Linked DNA regions of Homo sapiens: region 2 is linked to region 1. The links come from fine-mapping of genetic effects on gene expression. A gene starts in region 1. The other region holds a variant in brackets. All regions are shown on one strand. Distances are between the middles of the regions. Region 1 holds the start of LINC02848 (long intergenic non-protein coding RNA 2848). Region 2 holds the start of LOC105375313 (a long non-coding RNA gene).

What was found. PIP is the estimated chance that this variant, and not a neighbour inherited with it, causes the effect.
Region 2: its variant is fine-mapped to the expression of LINC02848 in CD4 T cells (BLUEPRINT, PIP 0.95).

What each region holds. Positions count from the first base shown.
Region 1 is chr7:63,893,519-63,905,384 of GRCh38, reverse strand. LINC02848 (long intergenic non-protein coding RNA 2848) reads right to left here and starts at 5,487. Exons shown (of 7, transcript NR_186803.1): 1 at 5,386-5,487; 2 at 4,940-5,047; 3 at 4,347-4,756; 4 at 1,795-1,863; 5 at 647-773. It also overlaps the pseudogene GABPAP.
Region 2 is chr7:63,694,487-63,706,352 of GRCh38, reverse strand. LOC105375313 (a long non-coding RNA gene) reads right to left here and starts at 7,147. Exons shown (of 3, transcript XR_927567.2): 1 at 6,783-7,147; 2 at 4,976-5,092. The variant G/AG (reference allele first, on the strand shown) is at 5,537.

The sequences.
Region 1 (11,866 bases):
TGACCTAATCGGTTATGTTATCTATAGATCACAGACATTGTCATTGTATAGAAAGCACTGTGAAAATCCCTGTCCTGTTTTGTTGTGATCTAATTACCAGTGCATGCAGCCCCCAGTCACGTACCCCCTGCTTGCTCAATCAATCACAACTCTTTTAAGCAGACCCCCTTAGAGTTGTGAGCCCTTAAAAGGGACAGGAATTGCTCACTCGGGGAGCTCGGCTCTTGAGACAGGAGTCTTGCCGATGCTCCCAGCCAAATAAACCACTTCCTTCTTTAACTTGGTGTCTGAGGGGTTTTGTCTGTGGCTTGTCCTGCTACACTAGGAATCATAAAGATGTGGGGAAATCAAAGGAAATCTTTTATTAAGAATTAAAGTTGTAGACTCCTATCTTGAGTTGATTACTTTGAATTTTTGTCCCAAAATACATACAGGACCAGGTCTAATTCTATGATCTTTATCACATGCAGCCAGATGCTGAAGAGAAATAGATACAACAGCGATATGGGAGTTATCCTCTCTAAAGCCCAACTGAAAAAACCCAGAGTCAGAAATTTTACAAACAGAAAAACAACATACTTATTCTGAACCAGGGAAGGAGAGGTAATTTGAACATTTAAATTTAAATTGCTATGAGAATACTGACTTGTTAGAAACTGAAGGAGTGAGCAGTGCTTCTAAACTCCACGCTTTTCCATCAGAATACAGAGATAGACAACCTCAAAGTGCAGTTTCTTCACAATTGTCTTCATCCAGTCATAACATTAATTTCTCTATGAATCAAATCATAAAATAAATATTAAACTCATGACATATTCTCCGACTAAGAGGCAGCAAGATAAACTGAACAGTTAGTTATCAGTGTAATAAATTATGTACAAGAATCTTATCACTGCATTTTTTAACAATGATGAAACTAGAAATAATCTAAGTTTCTATCAAAGAATAAACAGTGAAACAAGTCTTGTATACCCATTCTTTGGAATATATTTAAGACATTAAAAATAGAGGCCAGGTGCTGTGGCTCACGCCTGTAATCTCAACACTATGGGAGGCCGAGACGAGAGGATCACTTGACGTCAAGAGTTCGAGATAGCCTGACCAACATGGTGAAACCCTGTCTCTACTAAAAATACAAAAATTAGCCAGGCCTGGTGGCACATGCCTGTAATCCCAGCTACTTGGGAGGCTGAGGCAGGAGAATCACTTGAATCCAGGAGGTGGAGGTTGCAGTGAGCCGAAATCGTGCTATTGCACTCCAGCCTGGGTGACAGAGCAAGATTCCATCTCAAAAAAAAAATAGAATCTCATGCACTGATATGGAATAGTGTAAATGATATATTGCTTGTGAAATAGCAAAATAAAACACAATATAGTATGATATAATGTGTTCAAAAACTGTACAGGTATGTATCTCCTTTTTTTAAAAAAATTTTTTGGAGGCAGGGTCTCACTCTGTCGCCCAGATGGCAGTGCAATGGCATAATCACAACTCACCACAGCCTCAACTTCCTGAGCTCAACGGATTATCCCCACTCAGCTTCCCAAAGTGTTGGGATTACAGGCGAGAGCCACTGCAACTGGCCAACTTTATATGTATTTATAAATTTATAGAAAACATCCAGAAAAATAAACACCAAGCTATAATAATTCCTTCTAAGAAGAGAGTGAGTTTGGAACAAAGAGGAAGACATGGGAGATTTTCACTACATAAAGATCTCTATGATCTGATATTCTTAAAACAGTATGCATTTCTTTTATAATTAGAAAAAGGAAAAATGTAAGCGTTGTTACCATTTGGTAGGAGGGCAATAGTTTTATTTTCATCAGTATTTGTATTGCATGTTAGTGCACAGCACAAATCTAGAAGAGAAAGCCCAGAGGAATAATTAGAAGAAAAAAAATCACACCTAAAAAAGTGAGAGGTAGTTATCTTTACATAACAACAAGCGTTCCAGGTGAGGGCTTTACATAACAAGTGTTCCAGGTAAGGTACCGCTGCTCCAGCTCCCTCAAATCACCTATGCTCTGCCAAGGGGAAGGTGGAGGACAGGGAAGGCCAAGTCCCAGTGAGTGCTCTCCCCCAAAAAGGCCTGTTTCTGCAAATTTCCTGTTATTAAGAAAATGGAGTCCTAATGAGATGTGGACCCCTTTGGGATGCTGGCAGAGAAACAAAGTAGAATATGCCATGATCATGCCCTAGAGGAAGACTTCTAGGTTGAGACTTGAAATTCATCAAAAGCTTGTGTGAAGTAAATAAAGCTACTCTACCTCTCTGAGTGTCAGTTTCCACACCTATAAAATGGGGATTGCATGCCAACATCATCGAGTTGTTGCCAGAGTTAAATTCACAAAGATATTTAAAAGTGACTGTTACTGCTAGGGTCCACATTTTTTTTTTATTTAAAAAAAAAACAGCATCGGACTTCAAAATACACAAAAGTAACAATGTCCATGTGTCCAAAGACGAGATGATCAGCTTTCTAATAAGCCTGAAGCGCATAAGAACGAGATCTATCCCTAACTAGAACTCTTCACAGCTCCACTTAAGAGGACACAAGCAGGGCTCCAAGAAGCTAAGTGCACGGCCAGTGTAGAGTGACTGGTGTAGTGAGGGTAGAATCTCTTAAGACCCTCTGAAATGCAGTTACATAACAGGGTCCCAGGACACTGGAGCAAACCAGGCAGCTGAGCAGTTACTACCAGGAATGGCAGAGCAGAGGAGGGTCGGAGCCATAAATCTCAGCAGAATACACCAAACTGCAAAGAGCTCCTGGCTCTGTGAACAGCAGCTGTGGCTACATCAGGACCAATCTTCTAAGACAGCTGCTGGGGACAGCTGAGATCACGTGTTTTGGCAGCAACACACCCAACAGCAGTGCCTCTTGAACACAGACCACAAAATCCTCTCCATTTATCTTTAAGGTGATGGATGATGGATGCCCTCACGTTACAACATCCCCACCAACACTTGCGGACAAGTGTATTTAGAAACTTCCACCTAAAGACGGAACACTCAGGAGTGGAATGAGAATATTGGGGGATGGGGGAGAAACGCAGGTACTTGACCCCACAGACTCTATTGAAAACAAGAGAAGAACCGCTGCGCTGTGGCTCTTCCTCATCTCACCACATCCATAGACACCACATGGTTCTTGTTCCTTTATTGACAAAGGTGCTGATGAGCCCGTGTGCAATTAATCCTGAAGGAGTAAATTCTTCACAAAGTACAATAACAGTGTCTAATATCCATGACCAGGGTTTTTAGGGTTTTTTTTTATGGTAATCCACATTCAGGAATCACAAATGAAGCCTGTTGGAACGTGCGATACGAACAAGGTCTTATTTTCATGTAGATGAACACCTTGGTTTTTACGGATTAGACATAAAAAGCATAAAAGCTGGCGCCATTCCAGAATCAAAGGGACTGTCCCTGGGGACATATGGAAATTAGGGACATCAATTACACGAAACTAGAAGTGATCCCAGAAGTTCCCATTGTCTAGACAGAAAAGGTCAACAGATCAGCCCGAGAGAGTAAAGGTACCTCCGGGAGTGCCGGGGGGTGATGAGCTTTCCATTCAAAGCAAAGATGTGAAGCCTGAGGAGTTACAAAGACTCCCCAAATGGTCCACACCTTGAAAGTCGCTCCCACAAAGCTGGAGCACCACCTGTTCCTGAGGATCAGGCTGCCATCTGTGTTTGAGACACTGGCCAGTCAGACATTTGTTGAGATGAGGCCAATGATATCACGTGTAAAATACCTAAACCATCCTAATCTTTAGGTAGCTATTTGGGGGACTTTCTACCAAATGGGTTGGTGAAAAATGGCGCACCAGAGACACACGCCTGGGAACTGAAATTTTCTCCTCTGCTTTTAGCATCTCCTGGGTAAGCCAATAATGGCCCTCCCTGCCCCCTCAATATCCACATCCGCGAAAAAGTCGCTGGTGAGGGTGACATTTTCACGAAGCCACAGCCCATGTCACCCCGTGCAAAGCTCTGAACTTGTGCACTGGCGGGCCAGGCGGCGGATTTCTCCCCACAGCGGCGGAACTGCGCTCTGGCTGGAGAGAAAAGAGGGCAGCGGCACAATGGACAGCGCCTGGACCTCAGGCCAGTTCCCACAGCAGCTTAGGAAAGCCGGTGGCTCCCTGGGCTGCAGGAGGCGCGATGGCCAGGAAAGACCCTGGGTACAGGTGGGAGAGGGAACCCAGCTGAGCAGCGGGAAGTGGGGTGAGGACTACACCCGTCCCAGTTTGACAAGGGCGAGGTGTACATCGCGGCGTCACGCCCTCCTCACTGCCCAGCCCGGACCTGCCCCTCCTGTCCCTCTCCGGACTCACTTTCTTTGGCAAGGAAGTGCACGCGATCAGTAGCCAGCATCGTTGTGGAAGCGGCGAGGTCCACATTGCCGTGTCCAACCCTCCTGGGCTGCCCGCCTCCTCGCATGTCGCCTGCTGGGATTCCAGTCCAGCCGCCTTGCCACCAACGGGCGGGGGACCGTTAAGAGCTACTGTTTCCAGCCTGCCTAGCCAGGCTCTCACCGCCCCGCTCCTCCCACGAGAACTGCGCCCCGTCCCCGAGCCCGGGTCATGCTGGGATTGTAGTCCCGAAGTGCCTGAAACAACGGGCGGGAGCAGTGAAGAGACTACAACTCCCAGCATGCACAGCGAGGTCAACACAGCCCGGCTTTCCTCTTCAGGACTGTGCGCCGCCCCATGTTCATGCTGGCTGTGATTGTAATCCGGTCGCCCTGCAATTAAAAAACTGGAAGCTAATCAAAGACGACAACTCCCAGTATGCCAGGTGTAGCTCCCACCCACTAATCCACACCTCCCCGCGTCCAGAGCAGTACTGCCATGTCAAGGGGAGCCTGGCTGTTCCCAAACCTCTCCTGCCTGCCAGGCGACAGTGGGACCAGGGCGGTTGGTCCTACCTTGTAATTATGTCACTACCTCTTCCTAAGATGCTGGCTTCATGCTTCGTCAGTGCCTGAAGTTTGATTTCTCACGGAGCGGCAGGGGACCGGGGGCTGCTCACAAACCTGTCAGGGTTGCCATAGTAACGCTACTCTTCCTGTAGCTGGACTCGCCCCACCCTTTCTCGCACGCTTCTTCCCTTGGCCCGGCCTCTCCCCTCAGCACCGCCCCTTCTCCCCCGCCTCTTTTATTGGCACCGCCCCTCATCCTCGCTCCGCCCCTGACACGCCCCTTCGGACAAGCGGCAGTGTAGTCCCTGCGTAGGAATGGGGTTAATGGCCAGATGTCTGACACTTCTCGGACTTTTTGTGATCCCACGCGGGAAGCTCCCTCCTGAGTGTCTGAAATTGTCAGTTCACTGCCAGAAATGGATATAAGCGATCCCTGATAACTTGGCACTTGCCTTTTCAAAGCCGCCGTTTCCTCCATCCTCTGGGTTGTCACAAATCCTCCTTTGCAGCACCGCAGGAGTGCCCCTTGGACCCCGAGCTGGCTGCAAGGCCCACACCTGGGTCAGGCCTCGCACAGGGACGCTCCTGCCACTCTAATAAAGAGTAGAAAACGTCACACTGAAAGGCCTGACCCTGCTGCATCCAGTCAGGAAACAGCCACAGGGAAGGGAACCCCTAAGCCACTTTGGGAGCCACATCCACCACTTCTCTGCCCCTGACCCAGGCTGGTTCCTAGCCCTTAGGGTCCTACTGCGGACCTCCCGGCCATAATTAACGCAGGTGCAGGACCAGAGAGCCCCTTGGTCCCTCCCAACACATGAGGGAACTTTGTGTGGTGAGGTCAGGTACAGTGTCTACGTTTCTGCTGTGAATAGGGCTTTCTTGGAAACAATTTTAATTTCCCTTTTTAAATATCCCTTTGGAACCACATTTAATAATTTGCTGGTGGAACTTAACAGTGATAAATCTTTGAATCCATTTTTCTTTTCTTTTTCTGACACGCAGTCTTGCTTTGTAGCCCAGGCTGGAATGCTGTGACTCGATCTGGGCTCACTGCAACCTCCACTTCCCGGGTTCAAGCGATTCTCCTGCCTCAGCCTCCCGAGTAGATGAAATTACAGACAACCGCCACCACGCCCGGCTAATTTTTGCATTTTTTAGTAGAGATTGGGTTTCACCATGTGGGCCAGGCTGGTCTCGAACTCCTGAACTCAAGTGATCTGCCCGCCTTGGCCACCCAAAATGCTGGGATTGCAGGCGTGAGCCACTGCGCCCGGCCTGAATCCATTTTAACACTGAGTTTTTCAGATTAACTCGAAGTACCCCACAACTACACGCTAATGAAACTAGAGGAGGCACAGCCTCAGCTCCGTGCAGGATGGATGCACAAGAGCAGAATCTCCATGGGACGCCTTTCTGGAGCATCAGTATTACTGCAGGATTTGGAAGCAACAAGTTCAAATAATTTTCAACGTTAACACACTGGAAATTTAAGAGAAGTCTGGAAACTCATCTACCTTTAAAAACTGTCAGTCATCTGTGCCTAAGTCAGACTTTCTCCAAGAAAAAAAAAAAAAGAAACTCTAAGGAGACCCTATTTTTTATTCTTCTAAGTAGTTAAAATTAGAAATCACAGCAAGTCAACAGGAAGCTCTCCTCTGCCAGTCTCCTAAATCACAATATGGCCTTGGTAGGGTTTTATTTGTATTTTTTGGAGGGGTTTGTTGACATGTTGGGTATAAAACTTGGGCGGGGGGGGGTGGTTGACCAATTTTTGGAAGTTTTCAGCCATTAGTTGGTGATTAACTTTGTACCTCATTTAATTTTTCTGTTCCCTGTCCAACTTGGACTCAATCACTCTACAGGTCTCTAAGACTTCATTTTCTTAAAGCTTTTTCACTCTTTTATTCAGAATGGACAACTTCTATTGCTCTGTCTTCTGTTTCTAATCTTTGAATAAGCTCAAAAGTATTTTTCAAATTTCCTTATCTTCCTATTATTTCGTAATTTCCATGTCTTTGCTGAGGTTCCACATCTCTTCATTGTTAGAATATTTTCCTTTACCCCCATGAACAGATTTATAATAGCTGCCTTTAAACATCCTGAATTACAACATCTTAAATATCTTAGGATCACTCCTACTGCCTGCTTTTTAAATTGCGTATGGATTCTATTTTTGTGTTTCTTCACACGTATCATGAATTTTAAAGTTGTGTACTAAAACTGTAAAGAATCATTATATAGACTCTCATTTCTGTTGTGTACCTTTAACAGCGGTGTTATTTTTTACAAAAGGTGTTAATTGGGCTGGATTCAAACCTCAATACCTGTCTACCCTGCAGTGGGCACAGCTGAAAACCTCATTCAGTTCTTACTGACACATAGGTCATATCTATATTATGCAGCTGTGTTTCTATAACAATAGGTAATATATTATGCAGGTGTCATCATTATAATCTGTGTTAATTCAACAAGCTAATCCGGTATTACTGAAAGCCAGGACCTCAGTTTTTTTTTGTTTTTTGTTTTCTGTTTTTTGTTTTTACTGTATAATAGTTTTATTTTTCTCATTTTACTATTTTTACATTTTATGCACAAATATTTTTTATCTGCGTAAAAATAGAAAATAACTTTTATGTAAAATTACAAAAAAAATTAAAACCACAAAGAAATACATAATTGTTATTATGACAGTATAAGTGTCATTGTCGTTATTTAAAGAGTAAAAATGTATGCAAAAGTCCTCCTCCCAATTACAAAAGATTAAGAATTTTGTTTTTCCTGGCAGCAAGTGAAATATTGAAGTATCAATATTTTTACACCCTTTAGATCTGAAGACATTAAGTTAGTCACAGATTTGTTTTGCAATTATGAATTTTAAAACATTTTTGTGCTATTTCAAGGATACACTGGTTCTTTCTTAAAGGCAGTAGCATAAAATGAATATGGAAAACAGCAGACCTCACAAAAATATTTGGTGGTACAGTTCTTTTTGTATCATACTTGAGTATCACCATTAATCAGGGGAGAAAACAACTAAACAGTTTTTCCTAATTAAATGACATAGACTGATACAAAAATAAATGTGATCAGTCAATTTACCTGAAGATCAACCACACATAGCAATTCTGCCTAATTTGTTTTTCTGATGCCAACACAAATATTTAGACTTTAGGCTAGCGAGATATGTATGAAAGTTGGCTCAATAAAAACTTCACATGGAAAACAAATTTTAAAACAAAAATGAACATTTCTTTTACTTAAATTCTTGTACTTCTAAGGTACAAATGATGACCAATAATTTTATCTTTCTTCCTTTGAATATACTGTAAATTCTATGAAAAATTCATTTATAAAAACAAAGCAAAGAATGAATAGAATAAATTTTATTTTCTTTCACAATGTTATATTTTAATAGAAGAAAAAAACTACCTGGCTTTCTGATAACTGTAACCTAAGTAAAACAAATATTTTACATATAATTTGAGGCAAAGTAATGAGTTTCTTGAATCAACTGGAGAAATTAGTCATATTACTTTACCTATGTCATGCATAAATGATGGCAAGAAGAAAAAAAAAGCATCTGATCATGTAGGAGAACTGTCTCTGTTCAAATTATGAGAAATAAAATGAAAATTGCTAAAGGGAGAAAATGAATAAAATATGATTTTAAAAAAACCATATGGGAATTGCATAGATGAGAAAAAAGTTTTCATTCTAGGAATCTAAAAGTAATGTTTCTAGCTTTAAAAACATACACACACATATATAATTGAGACATGTCTATCATCTTGGCTAAAATTTTAATATATGTCTCCCCAAAAGCATTTTAAATATGAAAGCCAAGATTCTTAAGCTCTTGATGATACACCAGAAGGGTATACTTTATTATTTTTTTAAAACTACAAGCAACTTGTCAACTCCCTAGGCCGTAAGAGGATGGTGCAAAACCTTTCTTGCTGTCTATTTGTTACCTGACGCTAGAGCTTCTGTTTATTATTTCATATTGTTATTTTACTCAGATATTCTTACAACCACAGTGCCCAAATTGTACTAATAATCTGTCCATATATTCTCTTTCAAAAAAGTAAAAATGGAAATACAAATCTTACTCTGCCCAGATATCAACTGCAGAAAGAGCTTAATATAATAATATAAATGAATTGAGAACATGTTGTAGTAAAATTATGCGTTAAGATTACCAGAGAAAGAGATCAAAGATTCCTCCTCTCTCTCTTCTCTTCCTTGTCCTTAAGATACCTGCCTCTTAGGATTCATTCCAAACCACTACCAGAATTGCTAACAATGCCATCTTGCCTGTATTATCATGTCTTTTTCTCCTAGTTAAGTCAAAAGCATTAACTGAGCTCTTAAGAAGCTTTTTAAGGGGACATATTTAAAGAAAACAATGAAGGAAAAGGTGCATAAATATTTGAGAATCAACTTTCTCAAATCTGTAAGAGGATTAATAGCTATCTGCCAGTCTCATGTAATAATTCGTGCTTAATACCTTAAAACAAACAACAAAAAGAGAAAAGAAAGAAAAAGACATTTCTAGCCATTTTTGTTTAGTGTTCGCTTATGTAAGGAATGTCATATATGCAGGAATTACTTAATTTGAATCTTAAAATGAGTTGTTTAATAATTTTTCTTCTGTATATCTTCATGCCTTCATATATGTTTATAAAATGATCAACTGAATATGTATATAGATATATGAATACACATATATAATATGGAAAAGGAAAAAAAATAAGTGGAAAAGTATTGTCTTAAAGAGAAGACTGCCTATAACAGAGGTCGAATTTTCCTTTTAAAACTATTTGCAAGTAATTTACTAATGCCTTGAAAGGTAAAGTACTGCTGACTGATTTAAAGTCTTCATTTTATCAGAAACAAAGGAATATAAGCTGCTTTGCATAATAAACTGGCACTACAGGGTAATTTTTTTAAAAAGGAAGCCATAACAAACCAAACCAAACCTTTATTTTTGGGTTGAGGTATACCTTTTCAGTTTTTTAAATCTCTGACAGGAAAAACAGAGATCATTTTATAATTTTTGTAACAGCTGGTTTATTAGAATTAAATGCCTCTCTCAAAATAATTTAAATTCTTGGTCTGACATGAATAATCTATACAGAAAATCCTTAAAATTGGCTTGAGTTAATAAGCCAGATTTAAACCTGGATCTCCTCCTTCAGCACTGCTCTTTTGCCAGCCAACTTCTTACTGTCCTTTGCTTGCAAATATATAAATAACCTGATACTCTTAGTTTAGTAATTTATTATTATAAATTTATTTGGTATGAACATTTTAGCTCTGCTTGATTAGATGAAACAGGCACACATGCTTTATCTGAGAAATTCCATTTTCTGGTTCTATGTAAAGCAACATCTAAAGCAGCAGAGAGGGGAAACAGTTATATTTTCAAATATAGTTAAGCCAGACTGTTTCCTAGAGATACTTCATTTATTTTTTATTTTCAGATACTACTGGCTATTTTTGGTAGGGCTACACATTAATACTGACCAGTTTAGCTTTCCTGACTGTTGACAAACTATTCCACAATGAACCTGCCTTCACACCGCAGACATTGTGGAGATCCTTTAACACACACATATTCTAAAATATATGCTCAAAATAAAAAGATCCAAATTCACAAGAGTATGAAATATTTATAAAAAAATCATGCATCAGACTGTACAGCCTAGAAATAAAAGAAGATTCAAATTCAGTAATAAAGGTAAGAGCTATACTTGCTCTAAACATTTTAAGAAAGACTTTGGAGTCCCCGAATGTCCTGGGGCTCAATTATCCTTTTCCGTTTGCAGAGAAGCAGTAGCCAGAGCTACTGCTGTGACTGGCTGGGCAATTCCATGGAGCTGCATCTTTGCAAGTTTCTTCTGTTCACATTCTGTGACCAAACGGTTCAACTCCGCTGCACTGTATCCAGTAAGAGTCTTCAAGTCACAGACAAACTTGTACACAAATCTCTTGCCTTGAACTTTACAAATCATGTCCCCATCATAATAATATCTTAATGCACGACTGAGTTTCTCATAGTTCATCGTAGGCTTATTTTTACGCTGTCCCCATTTTTGTGCAACCAGTTCAGGCTGATTTAGCTTAAATTCACCTTTATCACCAACCCAAGAAATACAGTCTCGAGCGTCCTTATCAGTAAGAAGTTCTAGCAAAAACTGTCATAGTTGGATTTGGCCATTGTTTCCTGTTCTGTTCCCAGGTGAGCTTCTATCTTCTGAAATCCTCGGCGCTCTTTGTACTTTGGCTGCCTTCACACTACTATTTATAACTTTAATGGTAGTAGGTGTAGCAGATTGCACTGATGCTGGAATAATTTGCACAGGTTGATCAATTGTAACTATTTCATTCATCTGTTGTTCTTGACTTGCCAATACATATTTTCGGAGAAGTTCCAGATGACTCCAGAGAATTTCTCCCTGAGGAACCCGCTGAAAAAAATCTTCTTGGTTGAGACTACATAATTCTCTCCCCGAAATGTTGAGTGTGGTGAGGTCTATATCGGTCATGCTGAATTCCTTCATTACCCAAACCACCCAATGCAGGACTTGGTCTGTGGACCACTGTATGGGATCATAGGGTATCCCAAGGCGTTCTTGTTCTTTCCTATAGCCTTCCAGTGCAGCAGCCCATCTTGTCACTTGTTCTGAAGTTTCATCTGAAATGGTTGTGATGTGTTTTGTGCCATCAAGAGTTATCACTTGAGCTTCTTCAACAAGATGTGCTTCTGATTCAGCATGGTGGGCATCTGGATCAATAACAACCTCAACAGTGTCCGCAGGTTTAACAATTTCAAGGATGTTTAACTTTGGTTCAATTCCTTGATAAGAAATTACCTGTACACTAAGCTGTACAGTTCCATCTGTTTTTACTCCTTGGTCAAATAAACTT
Region 2 (11,866 bases), 200 kb after region 1:
CCAGGCCGGTCCTTCTGCCAAGGCCATTTTCTTTTTTTTTTTTTTCTGATGGAGGGACACAGTTTCACTCCGTCTCCCAGACTGCAATGCAGTGGCACAATCTCAGCTCGCTTCGACCTCTGCCTCCCCAGTTCAAGCAATTCTCCTGCCTCAGCCTCCCGAGTAGCTGGGATTACAGGAGCACAGCATGTCTAGCTGATTTTTGTATTTGTAGCAGAGATGGGGTTTTGCCATGTTGCCCAGGCTGGACTCAACCTCCTCACCTCAAGTGATCCACCTATCTCAGCCTCCCAAACTGCTGAGGAGTGAGCCACCGCACCCAGCACTCACCAAGGCCTTTGATGGCAGGCTTTTTCCAGGTGACCACTCCTTGTCTGGTCTGGTTCTGCCCCACTCTCCCTCTCACCAAGTTGGAATCCGTCACTACTTTTCAGTAGAGGAGAGTGTGTACCCCAATCTCAGCTTGGTATGATTCAGATCTGCATTTAACTCATGACATCTGGCTGATCCTCAAGCCCTGGAGAAAAAAAAGGGTCTCTCTGTGAGTATGATACAGGACAGGTCTGTCCCCAGGACCCTGGGAGAGGGAAGCCCAATGGCCCACCAGGTTGGCAGGGCTGGGGAAGGGAAAGTGTTATGGTAGCCCCAAGACTAAAAAGAGGCAGCAGAGGGAGCAGGACATCACTCCCATTGAACTCATGCCGCTGCCTAAGTGAGGTGAGGGAGGAGTGCACCCGAGTGACATGAGGGGGCAGAGAGGCACGGTTCCAGGGTGGCTTTCACCCTTACTTCCTGCCATGTTACTCTGATCCCCTGCAGGTGAGCCTGCCCACTTTTGGCTTAGGGCTGCTGCTGGGGCCTGTACTCAAACGCAGCCCCCCCATGGCCATGGCTCCATGAGTGGGGCAGAGCAGGGAGGAGTCCTAGACAGAGGAGAGGCTGGGGCAGGAGGGAGTGGGCCTCAAACTCCAGGAGGGGGCCCTTCTCATAGGTCCTCTTTTCCGGCCTCTTCTTCCTTACCCCTGGGCTGATCACCTGGGGAAGAACTGAGGCAAGCTTTCTCATCCTCAGGTCTGAGGGGTTCAATTACTGGGCCCAAGTAGCTGGGATTACAGGCATGCACCACCACACCTGGCTAATTTTGCATTTTTAGTAGAGTCAGGGTTTCTCCATGTTGGTCAGGCTGGTCTGGAGCTCCTGACCTCAGCTGATCCACCCACCTCTGCCTTCCAAAGTGCTGGGATTACAGGTGCGAGCCACTGAGACTGGCCAAGCAATCCTTTTCTAAAAATGAGCTGGGCTCAGTGGCTCATGCCTATAATCCCAGCACTTTGGGAGGCCGAGGTGGGTGGATCACTTGAGGTCAGGAGTTTGAGACCAGCCCGGGCAACATGATGTAATCCCATCTCTACTAAAATAAATAAATAAATAAATAAATTAGCCAGGTGTGATGGTGGCCACCTGTAATCCCAGCATCTCAGGAGGCTGAGACAGGAGAATCACCTGAACCTGGGAGGCAGTGGTTGCAATGAGCCGAGATCATGCTACTGCACTCCAGCCTAAGTGACAACAGTGAGACTCCGTCACAAACAAAAACAAAAACAAAACCAGATTCCATCTCAAAATAAATAAATAAAACAAAAAATGTGGTATGGCAATGAAAATAATTACTGTGTTAAAGACAGTTTCGTAGAAAATAGAAGACCACTCAGATACAATAAGCTGTCTTTTTAGATGAGTATACTTGTTATTCTTATTTTACAGCTAAAGAAACTGGCTCAGAGAATGTTATTCAATTCGACCATGTTGCATTTCTGGACGGTGCGGCTGAGATCAGACTTCGTGTGTAACTCCACTAGCCTACCAGGGTGCCTCTCATAAAGGTAAGAAATGTAAATTTGGCCTAATCTACAAAGTTGCCAGGGCAGCACTGGGTCAATTCTACATACAGTACTTCTATATTCATCAAGGGAAACCTTAAGGGAAGGTGAAAATGCTTCTAGAAGGCAACTGGACACCAGTGCCCTTGCTTGTTGCCTTTGGGCTCTTCCTCTAAGGCCAATAGTGACCTGAAATTACCAACTAACTGTTTCAATCAAGTGGACAAAATGGTACCAAGGTAATCAACATCAGACAAATTCATTTGAGGACCTATCTATGTGCTTTGAAAGACAAAACTTTTTGTAAAGGATACTGTATTTCAGAAAAACAAAATCATATTAACAACTAATAACACTGTAAAATGCTGATGTGTTGAATGCTACTTTAGAAAAACATGTTCAAATCTAGGAAAAAAATTTGATAGAAAACTACATAATCAGCTGGGCGCCGTGGCTCACGCCTGTAATCCCAGCACTTTGGGAGGCTGAGGCGGGTGGATGACGAGGTCAGGAGTTCAAGACCAGCCTGACCAACACAGTGAAACCCCATCTCTACTAAAAATATAAAAAATTAGCCAGGCATGGTGGCGTGTGCCTGTAATTCCCGGCTACTCAGACAGGCAGGAGAATTGCTTGAACCCAGAAGGCAGAGGTTGCAGTGAGCAGGTGAGCCAAGATCGCACGACTGCATCCCATCCTATGTGACAGAACAAGACTCTGTCTCAAAAAAAAAAAAAAAAAGAAAAGAAAACTACGTATCAATTATCTAGCTAGCTAGCTATCTAGAGAAATGGTTTCATTCTATTGCTCAGGATGGAGAGCAGCAGGATGATTATAGCTCACTGCAGCCTTGAGCTCCTGGCCGCAAGTGATCCTCCTGCCTTAGCCTCCTAAGTAGCTGCGGCCACAGGTGAACAGTTACACATGGCTTTTTGTTTTGTTTTGTTTTGTTTTTTGTACAGAAAGGGTTTCACTACATTGCCTGGGCTGGTCTCAAACTTTAGAGTCTCGATGTGTCACCCAGGCTGGGGTGCTTGGTGTGATCTCGGCTCACGGCAACCTCCACTTCCCAGTTCAAGTGATTCTCCAGTATCAGCCTCCCGAGCACCTGGGACTACAGGCATGTGCCACCACACCCGGCTAATTTTTGTTATTTTTTGTAGAGACTGAGTTTCTCCATGTTGGCCAGGCTAGTCTCGAACTCCTGACCTCAGGTGATCCACCCACCTTGGCCTCCCACTGTGCTGAGATTACAGGCGTGAGCCACCATGCAGGGCCAAACACTTTCTTACTTTATTAAATAGCATAACCCAGGTGGGGCACGGTGGCTCATGCCTGTAATCCCTGCAAGTCTGAAGGCCAAAGTGAGAATATCAGTGAACCCAGGAGTTTGAAACCGGCCTGGGCAACATAGCAAGACCCCCATCTCTACAAAAAATACAAAAATTAGGCTAGGCGTGCACCACGCCCAGCTAATTTTTGTACCTTTTGTAGGGACGGGGTTTCATCCTGCTGCCCAGGCGGGTCTCGAACTCCCGAGCCCAAGCCATCCTCCCGCCTCGGCCTCCCAAAGTGCTGGGATAACTGGGCCCAACCAGCCTCATGTTTTCCTTAAGCAGTCCCTCCCTGTTGCACACTTGGGTAGTTTCCTTTTTTACTTTTTTAGACAGGGGTTACCTCAGTCTCGAAGGCTGGAGTGCTGTGGTGGGATCACAGCTCATTGGAGCCTTGAACCTTGGGAGTTCAAGTAGCTGGGAAGCTGAGGTGAGACTAAAGAGATGGGGTCGCGCCAGGTTAACAGGCTGCCCTTGGCCTGAAAGGATCCTCCGGCTTCGGCCGCCACCGGACACAGTTTCCTATTTTTGATGGACATACACACTGTGCTGGGTGGGAGTTTATCAACTACCTTTCTGCTGCCAGCAATACAGAGGACCTGGAGAGGAGGTGGCGGTTACCAGGCTCCACTGTCAGAAGACTGACCATCTCCAGGCACTATACCGCCCCTGTGACGTCGCGAAAGACCAGCTCATAGGACTTTTCGAATGGGCGCCTCTGAGACGTCAATGAAGGCGCGCCCCTATGGCGTCACAGAGGACCGACTCTCATACGCAGCCAATCGGAAGTGAAGGCGGGGCTTCTGGGTCTTCCTGGAGTGCGCATACATGGGCCAGCGGCCATAAGAATTACAATTTACCCCATCGTCCTCTGAGCTTTGGGGATGATGGATGAATAAATAGAGGCACAGACAGGTGATCTACCCAGAGCTGATGAGTAACAAGCCTGCTCTCAGGCCGTGTGACTCCTAGATTAGTACTCTTTTTTTTTTTGGAGAGAAAGTCTCACAATCTCGGCTCACTGCAACCTCCACCTCCTGGGTTCAACTGATTCTCCTGCCTCAGCCTCCCAAATAGCTGGGGCTACAGGTGCCTGCCATCACAGACATCTAATTTTTGTATTTTTATTGGAGATGGGGTTTCACTATGTTAGCCAGGCTGGTCTCAAACTCTTGACCTCAGGTGGTCCTCCTGCCTCAGCCTCCCAAGTGCTGGGATTACAGGTGTGAGCCACTGTGCTTGGCTGCTTTTTTTTTTTTTTTTTTTTTTTCAAAATAGAGATGTTTAGCCAGATGTGGTGGCACAAACCTGTTGTCCCTCCTACTAGGGAGGCTGAGGTGGGAGGATCACTTGAGCCTAGGAGGCAGAGACTGTAGTGAGTCAAGATCATACCAATGCATGTCAACCTGGATGACAGGGTGAGACCCTGTTTAAAAAATAGAAAAGATATGGGGTCTTGCTATGTTGCCTAGGCTGATCTTGAACTCAGCCTCAAGCAATCCTCCTGCCTCAGCCTCCCAAAGTGCTGGGAGTACCGGCATGAGCTGTTGCACCTACCCCTGGGAACTTTTTGCTGGGAGTGGTTTCTCTTATCTGTCCTGGCTTCAGGAGGGCAGGACCCCAAACCAAGGGTTTCTTCAAGTGGACAGCACTTTGGGAATGAAAGTGGGGTCAGTACTTGGTGTGCTGCAGAGGTGGCTATAGCCTACAGGGCCTGCTAGAGCCTAGGACAGCACTTCATGGGGAAAGCTTGGGCCTTACCTGCCCAGGATCTCGTTGGGCTAATAATTGTCATGGAAGTCCTGTGCGGAATGAGAGTCCGGCAGTGCCTCATCCCGGGTCATGCTCAGATCCTCAGCAAGGGAACTCTGGGTGGCTCTGAGAGTGGAACACAAAGAAGCTGTCAGCCCTCCTGACCCAGGGGTTGTTCTTGGGGCCTGGAACTGTTTCTTACTCACCCTTACATCTCCTGGCACCACACTGGCCTACAGTGAATGTTCCAAATAAACGTTTGTGAATTGAGGCCAGGCATGGTGCCTCACACCTATAATCCCAGCACTGTGGGAGGCTGAGGCAGACAGATCACTTGAGGCCAGGATTTTGAGCCCAGCCTGGCCAACATGGTGAAACCCTATCTCTACTAAAAATACAAAAATTAGCTGGACATGGTGGCTGGCACATGCTTGTAGTCCCAGCTGCTTCAGAGGCTGAGGCAGATTTGCTTGAACCTGGAAGGCAGAGGTTGCAGTGAGCAGAGATCGCGTCACTGCACTCCAACCTGGGAGACATGGCAAGACTCCAGCTCATAAAAAAAAAAAAAAA[G/AG]GCTTCTTTGTAGAGATCGGGGTCTTGCTCTGTTACCCAGGCTGCAGTGCAGTGCAACAATCATAGCTTACTGCCGCTACTGCTGCCTCAACCTCCTGGGCTCAAGCTATCCTCACACACTACCCTCCCGAGTAGCTGGGACTAAAGTATGCCCCAGGCTTGAGTGCAGTGGTGCAATCTCGGCTCTCTGCAACCTCCACCTCCCAGGTTCAAGCGATTCTCCTGCCTCAGTCTCCCAAGTAGCTGGAATTATAGGCGCCTGCAACCATGCCCAGCTAATTTTTTGTATTTTTAGTAAAGACAGGGTTTCGCCATGTTGGCCAGGCTGGTGTTGAACTCCTGACCTCAGGTGATCTGCCCACCTCAGTCTCCCAGGAAGAAGAAACTGTTGGTCTCATAAGTGTCCCTCAGCTGTACTGAAATGGAAATGGCTAGCTCATCTCAAGTGGCAGGGGAGCCCGGGCAGGGGCAGCTGGGGCACGGGGGTCAGGGACCGAGGCTGCTGTCAGCTAACTTCAAAAGCTGACACGGGAATCAGGAGGGTGCTCAAAGGATGTCAACCCGGGGTGTGGGCAGGCCCAGGATTACAGGTGTGAGCCACTGTGCTTGGCCACTTTTTTTTTTTTTTTAGTAGAGATGGTTAGCAAGATGTGGTGGCACACACCTGTTGTCCCTCCTACTAGGGAGGCTGAGGTGGGAAGATCACTTGAGCCTAGGAGGCAGAGAGTGTAGTGAGTCAAGATCATACCACTGCATGCTGACATGGATGACAGGGTGAGACCGTGTCTAAAAAATAAAAAAGATATGGGGTCTCACTATGTTGCCCAGGCTGATCTTGAACTCAGCCTCAAGCAACTTTATTATTATTATTGTTATTATTTTTAGAGACAAGGTCTCACGGTCTCACCCACACTGGAGTGCAATAGTGCAATCATAGCTCACTGCAGCCTCAAACTACTGGGCTCCAGTGATGCTCCTGCCTCAGCCTTCTGAGTGGCTGGGATTACAGGCATGCACCAGCACGCCTGGCTCATTCAGCCCAGGGACATCAAACCCCCATCCCCTCACCTGCAACCATCCCTGCCTGGGACCCCTTCTGTCAAAGCAGTGAGGCTACAGCTGGGAGCCTTGAGCCTGGGTGGTTCTAACTGGCTGTGTGGTGGGGCCACATTCCCTGGCTTGGGCTGTCATGTCAGGGCAGAATCACAGGGGTCACCCCACCGTGGAGCTTGGGACCCTCACTCACTGATGTTGAGGTGCCCTGAGACCTTGTGCAGGATGTCAACCTCCTTCAGTGTGGCTTCTTGCAGCTCCTGCACCTCCTCGGGGGTGAAGCTGCTTCCACTGGTGACGTCGATGACCTTCACAGCATGCTCCTGGCTCGTGGGCTTGTGGATGCAGCACCTGACCATACTGCTAATGCCCCTGGGAGTGCAAAGGACAGATGGCCTCAGGGGGCCCCTCACCCCACGGGGAGTCCCAGATTCAAGGCTGCAGCAGACATGTCCTGCCCTTATCTAGAGATTTACACTTTCCCTCAACTTCCTCTGAGCTTTTGGGGATTGTGGATGAATAAATACAGGCACAGATAGGTGATTTGCCCAGAGCTGATCAGTAGAAGCCTGCTCTCAGGCTGTGTGACTCCTAGTTTAGTCATTTTTGGAGAGAAAGTCTCACTCTGTTGCCGAGGCTGCAGTGCGGTGGCACGATCTCGGCTCATGCAACCTCCACCTCCTGTGTTCAAGTGATTCTCCTGCCTCAGCCTCCCGAGTAGCTGAGACTACAGGCGCCTGCCACCACACACATCTAATTTTTGTATTTTTACTGGAGACGGGGTTTTACCATGTTAGCCAGGCTAGTCTCAAACTCTCGACCTCAGGCGGTCCTCCCACCTCAGCCTCCGAAAGTGCTGGGATTACAGGTGTGAACCACTGTGCTTGGCCACTTTTTTTTTTAATAGAGATGGTTAGCAAGATGTGGTGACACACACCTGTTGTCCCTCCTACTAGGGAGGCTGAGGTGGGAGGATCACTTGAGCCTAGGAGGCCTGCAGACTGTAGTGAGTCAAGATCATACCACTGCACGCCAACCTGGATGACAAGGTGAGACCATGTCTAAAAAATAAAAAAGATATGGGGTCTTGCTGTGTTGCCCAGGCTGATCTTGAACTCAGCCTCAAGGAATACTCCCGCCTCAGCCTCCCAAAGTGCTGGGAGTACAGGCATGAGCCATTGTACCTGTCCATGGGAGCAGTTCTTGAGCACACTGAATTCTGCTTTTTCCTAGCTTTAATGAATGTCTAGTTCTTCCTTTTTAGGTGCAGTGTATGTCAGCATTGTTTCAGTAATAAATGCATTCTAGATCTTAGAAATAATATTGGTCACAGGTGCCAGGTGCAGTGGCTCACTCCTGTAATCCCAACACTTTGGAAGGCTGAGGCAGACAGATCATGAAGTCAGGAGTTCAAGACCAGCCTGGCCAATATGGTGAAACCCTGTCTCTACTAAACATACAAAAATTAGCCAGGTGTTGTGGCAGGTGCCTGTCATCCCAGCTACTCAGGAGGCTGAGCTAGGAGAATCGCTGGAACCTGGGAGGCAGAGATTGCAGTGAGCCAGGATCACACCATTGCACTCCAGCATGGGCAACAAGAGCAAAACTCCAGCTGAAGAAAAAAAACAAAAGAAATATCCCATTACTTTAAGGCAATGTAGATACAGCCAGAATTTCTACAGAAATCTGAACCACATTATAAAGCCAGAAAAACATACCAGCTAATATTATTTAATACATATAGCACTAAATGGAAGAGGTAATATTTTCTTTTAATTTTTTTTTTTTTTTGAGATGGAGCCTCACCCTATCACCCAGGATGGAATGCAGTGGCAGGATCTTGGCTCACTGCAACCTCGACCTGCCAGGTCCAAGCAATTCTCCCGTCTCAGCCTCCCAAGTAGCTGGGACTACAGGCACCAGCCACCATGCCCAACTAATATTTGTATTTTTGTAGAGACGGGGTTTCACCATATTGGTCAGGCTGGTCTTGAACTTCTGACCTCTGGTGATCCATCCACCTCAGCCTCCCAAAGTGCTGGGATTACAGGCATGAGCCACCATGCCTGGCCAGAAAAGGTAATATTTTCCAAACATATACATTAGTGTATAACCTTATTAGACTTATAAATATGATTTTTTTCAGTAACAGAAGAAGATTCTCCTGAACTGTATCATTTCAGCTAACATTTACTTAAAATTAAAATAATATAACAGCTATAAAAAGTCAAGAGGCACCCAGGCGCAGTGGCTCATGCCTGTAATCCAAACACTTTGGGAGGCCGAGGCAGGTGAATCACCTGAGGTCAGGAGTTTGAGACCAGCCTGGCCAACATGGTAAAACCCCATCTCTACTAAAAATACAAAAATTAGCCACGCATGGTGGTAATCACTTGTAGTCCCAGCCACTAGGGAGGCTGTGATGGGAGGATCACTTGAACCTGAGTGGTGAAGGTTGCAGTGAGCTATGATTGCACCACTGCACTCCAGCCTGGGTGACAGAGCAAGACTCTGTTTCAATGAAAAAAATGAAACAGTCAAGAGCATGGAGAGTATTAAATTCAGACATAACCAATGGTCTATCATCAGAATAGCTCCATTTTTTTGCTATCATTATGTGTTAAGGTCAATTTGCTAAACACGAATATTTGTACTAAAGTTTTAAGTGTACCATATAATACATTAATGCTGACTTAGGTTTAACATCCTTTGCTGTACAATATACTTGAATATAATACTTATATATCACAACAAAAGTATCTTTCCCTAAGGCAATTACCATTAATACTGCTTTAAAGTTATACAATGTGGGCTGAGGGGTGGCTCACACCTGTAATCCCAGCACTTTGGGAGTCCGAGGCAGGCAGATCACAATGTCAAGAGATTAAGACCATCCTGGCCAACATGGTGAAACCCCGTCTCTACTGAAGTACAAAAATTACCTGGGCGTGGGACGCACCCCTGTAGTCCCAGCAACTTGGGAGGCTGAGGCAGGAGAATCTCTTGAATCTGGGAGGCGGACGTTGTGGTGAGCTGAGATTGCAACTCCAGCCTGAACAAGTGCAAAACTTTGTCTCAAAAAAAATATGAAAATGTGAAGATTGTTTTTATAATTTTCAACACCTGCACATTACTGTCTTTAAACTAATCTAACAAATCACCATCACAACAAAAGCCCCACAAGATAATCTGTTTCACCTTATAAAAAGCACTGACAGTTACTGTGTGGTAATTTGTTGCAGTAGCCACGGAAACTAGTATTGTACTGAAGCCTCAACACCCACTTGAAGGGGCTGGGCATGGTGGTCATGCCCGTAATCCCAGCACTTTGTGAGGCCCAGGTGGGTGGATCACTTGAGGTCAGGAATTGGAGACCAGCCTTGCCAACATGGTAAAACCCCGTCTCTAAAAAAAATACAAAAATTAGCTGGGGGTGGTGGCACATGCCTATAATCTCAGCTACTCAGGAGGCTGAGACATGGGAACTGTTTGAACCCAGGGTGGGGCGGAGTTTGCAGTGAGCCAAGATTGTGCCACTGCACCCCAGCCTAGGTGACAGAGTGAGGCTCTATCTCAACAACAACAACAAAAACTCCACCTGGTTCTGCCCCACTCTCCCTCTCACGAAGTTGGAATCCCTCACTACTTTTCAGTAGAGGAGAGTGTGTACCCCAATCTCAGCTTGGTATGATTCAGATCTGCATTTAACTCATGAAACCTGGATGATCCTCAAGCCCTGGAAAAAAAAAAGGGTCTCTCTGTGAGTATGATACAGGACAGGTCTGTCCCCAGGACCCTGGGAGAGGGAAGCCCAATGGCCCACCAGGTTGGCAGGGCTGGGGAAGGGAAAGTGTTATGGTAGCCCAAAACTAAAAAGAGGCAGCAGAGGGAGCAGGACATCACTCCCATTGAACTCATGATGCTGCTGCCTGAGTAAGGTGAGGGAGGAGTGCACACGAGTGATGTGATGGGGCAGAGAGGCACGGTTCCAGGGCGGCTTTCACCCTTACTTCCTGCCATGTTACTCTGATCCCCTGCAGGTGAGCCTGCCCACTTTTGGCTTAGGGCTGCTGCTGGGGCCTGTACTCAAATGCAGCCCCCCATTGCCATGGCTACAGGAGTGGGGCAGAGCAGGGAGTGGGACAGAGGAGAGGCTGGGGCAGGAGGGAGTGGGCCTCAAACTCCAGGAGGGGGCCCTTCTCATGGGTCCTCTTTTCCAGCCTCTTCTTCCTTACCCCTGGGCTGATCACCTGGGGAAGAACTGAGGCAAGCTTTCTCATCCTCAGGTCTCAGGGGTTCAATTACCAGGCCCAAGTAGCTGGGATTACAGGCATGCACCACCACACCTGGCTAATTTTGCATTTTTAGTAGAGACAGGGTTTCTCCATGTTGGTCAGGCTGGTCTCGAGCTCCTGACCTCAGCTGATCCACCCACCTCGGCTTCCCAAAGTGCTGGGATTACAGGCGTGAGCCACCACGCCGGGCCGAACACGTTCTTATTCTATTAAATAGCATAACCCAGGCAGGGCACAGTGGCTCACGCCTGTAATCCCTACAAGTCTAAAGGCCAAGGTGAGAATATCAGTAACCCAGCAGTTTGAGACCGCCCTGGGCAACACAGCAAGACCCCCATCGCTACAAAAAAATACAAAAATCAGGCCAGGTGTGCACCGCCCCCAGCTAATTTTTGTACCTTTTGTAGAGACGGGGTTTTGTCATGTTGCCCAGGCTGGTCTCGAACGCCGGAGCCCAAGCCATCCTCCTGCCTCGGCCTCCCAAAGTGCTGGGATAAGTGGGCCCAACTAGCCTCATGTTTTCTTTAAGCAGTCCCTCCCTGTTGCACACTTGGATAGTTTCCTTTTTTACTTTTTTAGACAGGGGTTACCTCAGTCTCGCAGACTGGAGTGTTGTGGTGGGATCATAGCTCATTGGAGCCTTGAACCTTGCGGGGTTCAAGTAGCTGAGAAGCTGAGGTGGGACTAAAGAGATGGGGTCGCGCCAGGTTAACAGGCTGCTCTTGGCCCGAAAGGATCCTCTCGCGTCCGCCGCCACCGGACACAGTTTCCTATTTTTGACGGACATACACACTGTGCTGGGTGGGAGTTTGTCAACTACCCTTCTCCAGCCAGGAATACACAGGACCTGGAGAGGAGGTCGCGGTTACCAGGCTCGACTCTGAGGAGACTGACCAGCTCCAGGTACTATATCGCCCCTGTGACGTCGCTGAAAGCGCGCGTCTGTGGCGTCGCGGAAGGCCAGCGTGTATGACGTTGCCGA